Linked DNA regions of Homo sapiens: all the other regions are linked to region 1. The links come from fine-mapping of genetic effects on gene expression. A gene starts in region 1. Each other region holds a variant in brackets. All regions are shown on one strand. Distances are between the middles of the regions.

Region 1 (2,500 bases):
TCCTGGAAATGTATCCTTGGGAGACCTTAAAACTTTACTTCTCCCACAGCTCCGCCTCATTAAAGAGCTGGTTTTCTAGGCTGGGTGCAGTGGCTCAGCCTGTAATCCCAACACATTGGGAGGCCGAGGCTGCAGGATCAGCTTGAGCTCAAGAGTTCAAGACCAGCCTGGGCAACATGGTGGGACCCCATCTCTACTAAAAATGAAAAAAAAAAAAAAAAAAAAAAAAAAGCTGGGCGTGGTCATCCCTCTGTGTCCCCAGCTACTCGGGACGCTGAGGTGGAAGGATAGCCTGAGCCCAGGAGTTCGAGGCTGCAGGGAGCTGTGGTCGCAGCACTGCACTCCAGCCTGGGCCACAGAGCGAGACTCCGTCTCAAAAAAAAAAAAAAAAAAAAAAGGAAACAAAAAGAGAAAGAAAAAAAGAGTTTCTCACACGTTTCCAACAAAGGAAAGAAAAGCCCTTCCGAAACCAGGTCCGGACCAGCAAGATGGGAAGACCACCCAAGCGTGGACCTCAAAGATCCTCAGTTACAGAGGATGGACGGGGGATGACCCCAACACTGAGCACCCACACCTACCCTCTGCTCCCCTCACCTCCCCCTCCTCCCCACCGGCCGCGCGTTCAGGCCGGCAGCCGGTTCCCCGACCCCGACACCCCACCGCAAATCGGCCAGGGGAGGCTTCTGCGTCCCAGCCCCCGCTCCCACCGCCCGGGCCCCATCCCCGACCTGGGGGGCGCTCCAGGGCGCCCTGGGGCTCGCGGCTCTCGGGCTTCCTCGGCCGGTAGCCGTAAACGCCCCGCTCGGTCTGGTAGCCACGCCAGAAGAGAGGGAGAGCCCGGCCGAGGCCCCGTCGTGCTGCTGCCGCAGTAGCAGAGGCCATGTTCACCAGATGTCCCGGCCAGCATGCTAAGGCGGGAGCCCGAGGGGATCCCACCGGCCCTGGTAAATCCGGGACTCGTCAGAGGCGGCCGGAGCCCCGCCCCCAGACAACGCCCCCGCGCCTGATTGGCCGACGGGCCGGACCCTGGAAGCCAATCCGTGGCAGCGGCACTCACAGCGAAGCGACGCCCAGGATTGGGGCGGGCTTCCAGGGCGGTTCCGGCGGCTGAGACCGCCCTGCTCCACCGCAGGGCGGGGCAAGTAAGTGTTCCGCGGGGCGGCACCTGCTCCCAGTACGAAACAGGATGTAGCTGCAGCGCCTGTAGTCTCCCGCCAGGAGTGTTTACCCATCACGCCTCTGCCCAACCGCATAGACACAGTCTAGGGTGTCTGTTACAGAAAGGACAAATTAGCCACAGGGTGGATAGGAAATGGCTAGGACTGAGACCAAGGGACGCAAAAAGCAAAGGTTACTTAGCGCAGCTACAAAATCAATACCCCTAATTTTTTTGTTTTCTTAAGAAACATTAACAGAGGCCGGGCGCGGTGGCTCACGCCTGTAATCCTAACACTTTGGGGGGCCACAGCGGGAGGATCATCTGAGGTCAGGAGTTTGAGACCAACCTGTCCAACATGGCGAAAACCCATCTCTACTAAAAATACAAAAATTAGGTCGGGCGCGGTGGTTCACGCCTGTAATCCCAGCACTTTGGGAGGCCGAGGCGGGCGGATCACCTGAGGTCGGGGGTTCGAGACCAGTCTTACCAACGTGGAGAAACCTCGTCTCTACTAAAAATACAAAATTAGCCAGGCGTAGTGGTGGGTGCCTGTGGTCCCAGCTACTCGGGAGGCTGAGACAGGAAAATCGCTGGAACCCGGGAGGTGGAGGTTGCGGTGAGTTGAGATGGCGCCATTGCACTCCAGCCTGGGCAACAAGAGCGAAACTCCGTCTCAAAAAAAACAGAACAAAAACAAACAAACAAACGAACAAAAAAAAAAAAACAAAACAGGCTGCAGTGGCTCATGCCTGTAATCCCAACACTCTGGGAGGCCCTCTGGGAGGCCAAGGAGGGCGGATCACGAAGTCAGGAGTTCGAGACCATCATGGCTACTATGGTGAAACCCCGTCTCTACTAAAAATACAAAAATTAGCCGAGTGTGGTGGCGGGTGCCTGTAGTCCCAGCTACTCGGGAGGCTGAGGCAGAAGAATCGCTTAAACCCTGGAGGCAGAGGTTGCAGTGAGCCAAGATCGTGCCCACTGCACTCCAGCCTGGGCGACAGAGCGAGACTCTGTCTCACAAACAAACAAAAAACATTAAGAGAGAAAGAAGGAAATAGGGTAAAGGGAGCAGGGAAGAAAGGGATAAGAGTCAAAAGAAACTGGACATGAACGATTAGTTGGTCTGTCTCTGAGTGAGTTTCCCAAATGATTTTTTTTCTGTGGCTTACTTTTAACTTTGCCAGTATGGTAGGAGAGAGAGTCTGCATCCTTACCTGGTTAGTCATCCTTCGTTCCAGTAAGCTGTGCAGCTATACCCCAAACTCCTAGGAATATTATACATACAAGCCCAAGACATCCTCCTTCTTACTCATTCAACCAGTACACTCATAAAGCACT
Region 2 (2,500 bases), 70 kb before region 1:
CTATATTTAATATAATAATCAGTTTCAACTTGTTAAGGCACTCTAAGCAGGTGGCCATTAGCCTGTGGTTGTTTCTGTACCCTGAAGTCTCACAAAAGAAAACTGAAAATGACCTTAGAGGATATTTAATTCTGAATGAGTTTCAGCCAATTACAGACAGTCAACCAGCCTATTGGCTACACAGAAACCTCTCACTGGAACATAATCAAATGAGGCAAACGCCTAGCTGTAGCCAATCAAGTAATTTCTTTACTTCTGCAATTCTTTACTTCTGCTACAAAAGCTCACTGCCCACACCCCTGGAGCAGCTCTCGGCCCCTCTACCCATGTTGAGTGCTGTCAGGTTCATGAATTCTTTTTTTTTTTTTTTTTTGAGATGGAGTCTCGCTCTGTCGCCCAGGCTGGAGTGCAGTGGCGGGATCTCGGCTCACTGCAAGCTCCGCCTCCCGGGTTCACGCCATTCTCCTGCCTCAGCCTCCCAAGTAGCTGGGACTACAGGTATTTGCCACCACGCCCAGCCAATTTTGTATTTTTATTTATTTTTATTTATTATTTTTTGAGACGGAGTCTCGCTCTGTCGCCCAGACTGGAGTGCAGTGGCTCGATCTCAGCTCACTGCAAGCTCTGCATCCTGGGTTCATGCCATTCTCCTGCCTCAGCCTCCCGAGCAGCTGGGACTACAGGCGCCCGCCACCACGCCCGCCTAATTTTTTCTATTTTTAGTAGAGATGGGGTTTCACTGTGTTAGCCAGGATGGTCTCGATCTCCTGACCTCGTGATCCGCCTGCGTTGGCCTCCCAAAGTGCTGGGATTATAGGTGTGAGCTACCGCGCCCAGCTCAATTTTGTACTTTTAGTAGAGACGGGGTTTCTCCATGTTGGTCAGGCTGGTCTCAAACTCCCAACCTCAGGTGATTCACCCGCCTCAGCCTCCCAAAGTGCTGGGATTACAGGCGTGAGCCACTGCGCCTGGCAAGATGACTACTATTAAAATAATCAAAAATACTAAAAGTAGACCAGGATGCAGATCAACTGGAACTCCAGAACACGGCTGGTGGAAATACAAAATGGGGCAACCGAGGGCCGGGCGTGGTGGCTCACGCCTGTAATCCCAGCACTTTGGGAGGCTGAGGCAGGCAGATCACCTGAGGTCAGGAGTTCAAGAACAGCCTGTCCAACATGGTAAAACCCCAGCTCTACGAAAAATACAAAAATTGGCTGGGCATGGTAGCACGTGC[C/T]TGAAATCCCAGCTACTCAGGAGGCTGAGATAGGAGAATCGCTTGAACCCGGGAGGCGGAGCTTGCGGTGAGCCGAAATCGTGCCACTGCACTCCAGCCTGGGCAACAGAGCGAGACTACGTCTCAAACAAACAAACAAACAAACAAACAAAATGGGGCAACCACTTGGAAAAGAGCTGACAATTTCTTATAAGTTGAGCATACATTTACTATAAAACCCAACAGCTGTACTTCTAAGGACTCACCCATGAAAAATATCCACAGAAAGACTTATACATGAATGTTCATAGCAAATTGATGTGTTGTAGCCAAAATCTGGATACAACCCAAATGTCTAACAAGCGAATGAATGAATAAACTGTGATAACTTCAACATCAGAACAGTATTCAGAAATAAAAAGGAATGAGTTACTGACGTAACGACCATATGAATTAATCTCAAAAAGATTATGAAGTTAGACACTAAAGAATATACTACTGTATGATTCCATTTACATGAAGCTCTAGAAAAAACAAATCAAAGTACAGTCACAGGATGCAGATGAGTGGTAGCCTGGGCCTGTGGAGATTCACTGAGAAAGGTTACAGTGAACTTCGGGGATGACAGAAGTGTTCTATATCCACAGAGGTTGTAGTCATGTGGGTGTACAAATTTGTCAAAACTCTTCAAAATGTATGCCTAAAAACAGGTGTACTTTACTGTATATATATTATACCTCCACAAGGTTGACTTTTTTTTTAATGGTGGGGAGAGGAGTTTCTAAGATGCTGAAAGTCAATGGTAGAAATATGGATGACTATTCTTTTTTTTCTTTGTATTTTTCTTTGTTTCTTTAAACTTCTCTCCCTGACCATTTAAAACAAATTTAAAACAAGTACAGTAGTAAAAGTACTTTAATTATCAGATCATTTCATCCTTCAGAAAGAAAATATAGTTAGGTTTTCTCCAGATTATGTACCTAATCTGTTCTACTGCTTCCTAATATAATTTTTTAAAAGTTCTTACAAGTATTTCAATAGATTTTCGAACTCCCCAAAAAACCTTGACCTAAATTATCTGGTATGTATGTATGTATGTATCTATGTATTTATTTATTTTGAGACAGCATCTCGCTCTGTTGCCCAGGTTTGAGTGCAATGGCGTGATCTCAGCTCACTGCAACCTCCACCACCTGGGTTCAAGTGGTTCTCCTGCCTCAGCCTCCCGAGTAGCTGGGATTACATGTGCACGCCACCATGCCTGGCTAATTTTTGTATTTTTAG
Region 3 (2,804 bases), 52 kb before region 1:
CTTGCTCTGTCGCCCAGGTTGGAGTACAGTGGCGCCATTTCGGCTCACTGCAACCTCTGCCTTCCAGGTTCAAGCAATTCTCCTGCCTCAGCCTCCGGAGTAGCTGAGACTACAAGCGCATGCCACCACACCCAACTAATTTTCATATTTTTAGTAGAAACGGCGTTTCACCACGTTGACCAGGCTGGTCTTGAACTCCTGACCTCAGGTGATCCAGCCGCCTAAGCCTCCCAAAGTGCTGGGATTACAGGCGTGAGCCACTGCACCCAGCCATCACACTTTCTTTTTTTGTTATTGTTTTTCTTTTGTTGTTTTCCTATTTCTACCATCACACCTTCAAGGATAAATTTGCTGGTTGCATTCACATATTCATAACCAGTTCCCCTGGTTATTCCACCTATTGCAGATTAAATCACGTATATCAATCCCAACATCTTAGAGGAATACAGTCTTTTCATGTTACCCAACAGAGGGGTTGAGAGAGTGGAGGAAGGAGGCCTCTTTTAATGGGTTTTTTTTTTTTTTTTTTTGAAACGCAGTCTTGCTCTGTCACCCAGGCTGGACAGCAATGGTGTGATCCTGGCTCACTGCAACCTCCGCCTCCCAGATTCAAGCGATTCTCTTGCCTCAGCCTCCCAGGAAGCTGGGATCACAGGTGCCCACCACCACACCCGGCTATTTTTTGTATTTTTAGTAGAGGCGGGGTTTCACCGTGTTGGCCAGGCTGGTCTCGAACTCCTGACCTCAGGTGATCCACCAGCCTTGGCCTCCCAAAGTGCTGGGATTACAGGCATGTGCCACCCCACCCGGCCTTAATGGCCATTTTCTTAAAGAGAAATAGTGTTTCTTCAAAAGTCATCATCAAGCGAAGGTCTTGGCGAGGATATCTTCATGCTGGTGCAAGTGAACTGTGCCAATTCCTACAGCGGGTACTGGCAAAGGGGGCCGGCCCACCAGACGGAGCTATAAGTGCAGCAGAGAAGAAATAAAATGACATTTTGACTAGATCAGAGCTCTGCTTAGTTCCAACAAGACAGTGCATGTATTTCTCTTAGCTTGTTTAACCATAAATCACCTCTTTCAAATAATGAGTTACGCAGAAGAGATTAGAGGGACAGGGCTCCGTGCCTCAATGCCTGTAATCCCAGCGCTTTGGGAGGCCGAGGTGGGCGGATCACGAGGTCAGGAGATTGAGAC[T/C]ATCCTGGCTAACATGGTGAAACCCCGTCTCTACTAAAAATACAAAAAAAATTTAGCTGGGTGTGGTGGCGGGCGCCTGTAGTCCCAGCTACTTGGGAGGCTGAGGCAGGAGAATGGCGTGAACCCGGGGGGCGGAGCTTGCAGTGAGCTGAGATTGCGCCACTGCACTCCAGCCTGGGCAACAGAGTGAGACTCTGTCTCAAAAAAAAAAAAGAAAGAAAGAAAGAAAAGAAAAACAACATGCACACAAAACACAAAACACTACCAGAGAAAACGTGTGATTACCTTGCAGGCCAGCTGCTTTTCAAACCTTGGAGAAACAAACGACCACGGACCCATGTTCTGAGGTTCCTCCTGACTCCAAATATGATCTATGAGAGAAGAAATTCTTTCAGCACCTCAAGTAGACACATGCAGACGGTCCCCAATTTACTATGATCCCACCTACGATGGAGTTTTCAACTTTACGATGGTGTGAAAGGGATTCACATTCACTAGAAACTGTACTTCAAGTACCCATACAACAGTTCTGTTTTTCACTGTTGGTACAGTATTCGATAAATTATCTGAGATATTCAACACTTCATTATGAAATGTAATAGATTTTGTGTTAAATGATTGTGCCCAACGATAAGCTAATGTGAGTGTTCTGAGCATGTTTAAGGCAGGCTAGGCTAAGCTGTGTTTTGTAGTTTAGGTGTATTCAATGCATTTTCTTTTTTCTTTTTTAAGTTCTGGGGTACACATGCAGGATGTGCAGGTTTGTTATGCAGGTAAATGTGTGCCACGGAGGTTTGCTCCTCAGATCATCCATCACCTAGGTATTAACCCAGCATCCATTAGCTGTTCTGCCTGATGCTCTCCCTCCTCCCCCATGACCCTCGGACAGGCCCCATATATGTACCAAATTTTCTTTCTTTTTTTTTTTTTTTTTTTTGAGACGGAGTCTCGCTCTGTCGCCCAGGCTGGAGTGCAGTAGCGCAATCTCGGCTCACTGCAAGCTCCGCCTCCCGGGTTCACGCCATTCTCCTGCGTCAGCCTCCCAAGTAGCTGGGACTACAGGCGCCCGCCACCACGCCCGGCTAATTTTTTTGTATTTTCAGTAGAGACGGGGTTTCACTGTGTTAGCCAGGATGGTCTTGATCTCCTGACCTCGTGATCCGCCCACCTCGGCCTCCCAAAGTGCTGGGACTACAGGCGTGAGGCACCGCGCCCCGCCTGTACCAAATTTTCATGTTTTTGTGTCTTTTTTTGACACAGAGTCTTGTGCCCAGGCTGGAGTGCAGTGGCACAATCTCGGCTCACTGCAACCTCCGTCTCCCAGGTTCAAGCAATTCTTCTGCCTCAGGCTCCCAAGGAGCTGGGACTACAGGCGCCCGCCACCACGCCCGGCTAATTTTTTGTACTTTTAGTAGAGACGGGGGTTCACCGTGTTAGCCAGGATGGTCTCAATCTCCTGACCTTGTGATCCACCCACCTCAGCTTCCCAAAGTGCCAGGATTACAGGTGTGAGCCACCGCGCCCGGCCCAAGATTCAATTTTCTAATAACCCCCACCACATCTTTTCATTTAAAAGAGCTGAAATGGGTTTTGGGTATCTGAACATC

Evidence for each region. PIP is the estimated chance that this variant, and not a neighbour inherited with it, causes the effect.
Region 2: its variant is fine-mapped to the expression of DHTKD1 in whole blood (TOPMed, PIP above 0.99).
Region 3: its variant is fine-mapped to the expression of DHTKD1 in whole blood (TOPMed, PIP above 0.99). The same link has a PIP of 0.9 or more in blood mononuclear cells and lung.

Annotation. Positions count from the first base shown.
Region 1 is chr10:12,067,416-12,069,915 of GRCh38, reverse strand. DHTKD1 (dehydrogenase E1 and transketolase domain containing 1) reads right to left here and starts at 962. Exons shown (of 17, transcript NM_018706.7): 1 at 729-962. The coding sequence starts at 882. RefSeq lists silencers at 627-786, 887-936.
Region 2 is chr10:12,137,842-12,140,341 of GRCh38, reverse strand. All of the region lies in intron 3 of SEC61A2 (SEC61 translocon subunit alpha 2), which reads right to left. Among named protein-coding and RNA genes, the nearest start is that of MIR548AK, 8.3 kb to the right of the region's middle. The variant C/T (reference allele first, on the strand shown) is at 1,238.
Region 3 is chr10:12,118,946-12,121,749 of GRCh38, reverse strand. DHTKD1 (dehydrogenase E1 and transketolase domain containing 1) reads right to left here. Exons shown (of 17, transcript NM_018706.7): 16 at 1,483-1,568; 17 at 1-963. The coding sequence ends at 862. Among named protein-coding and RNA genes, the nearest start is that of SEC61A2, 9.3 kb to the left of the region's middle. RefSeq lists an enhancer at 1-111. The variant T/C (reference allele first, on the strand shown) is at 1,198.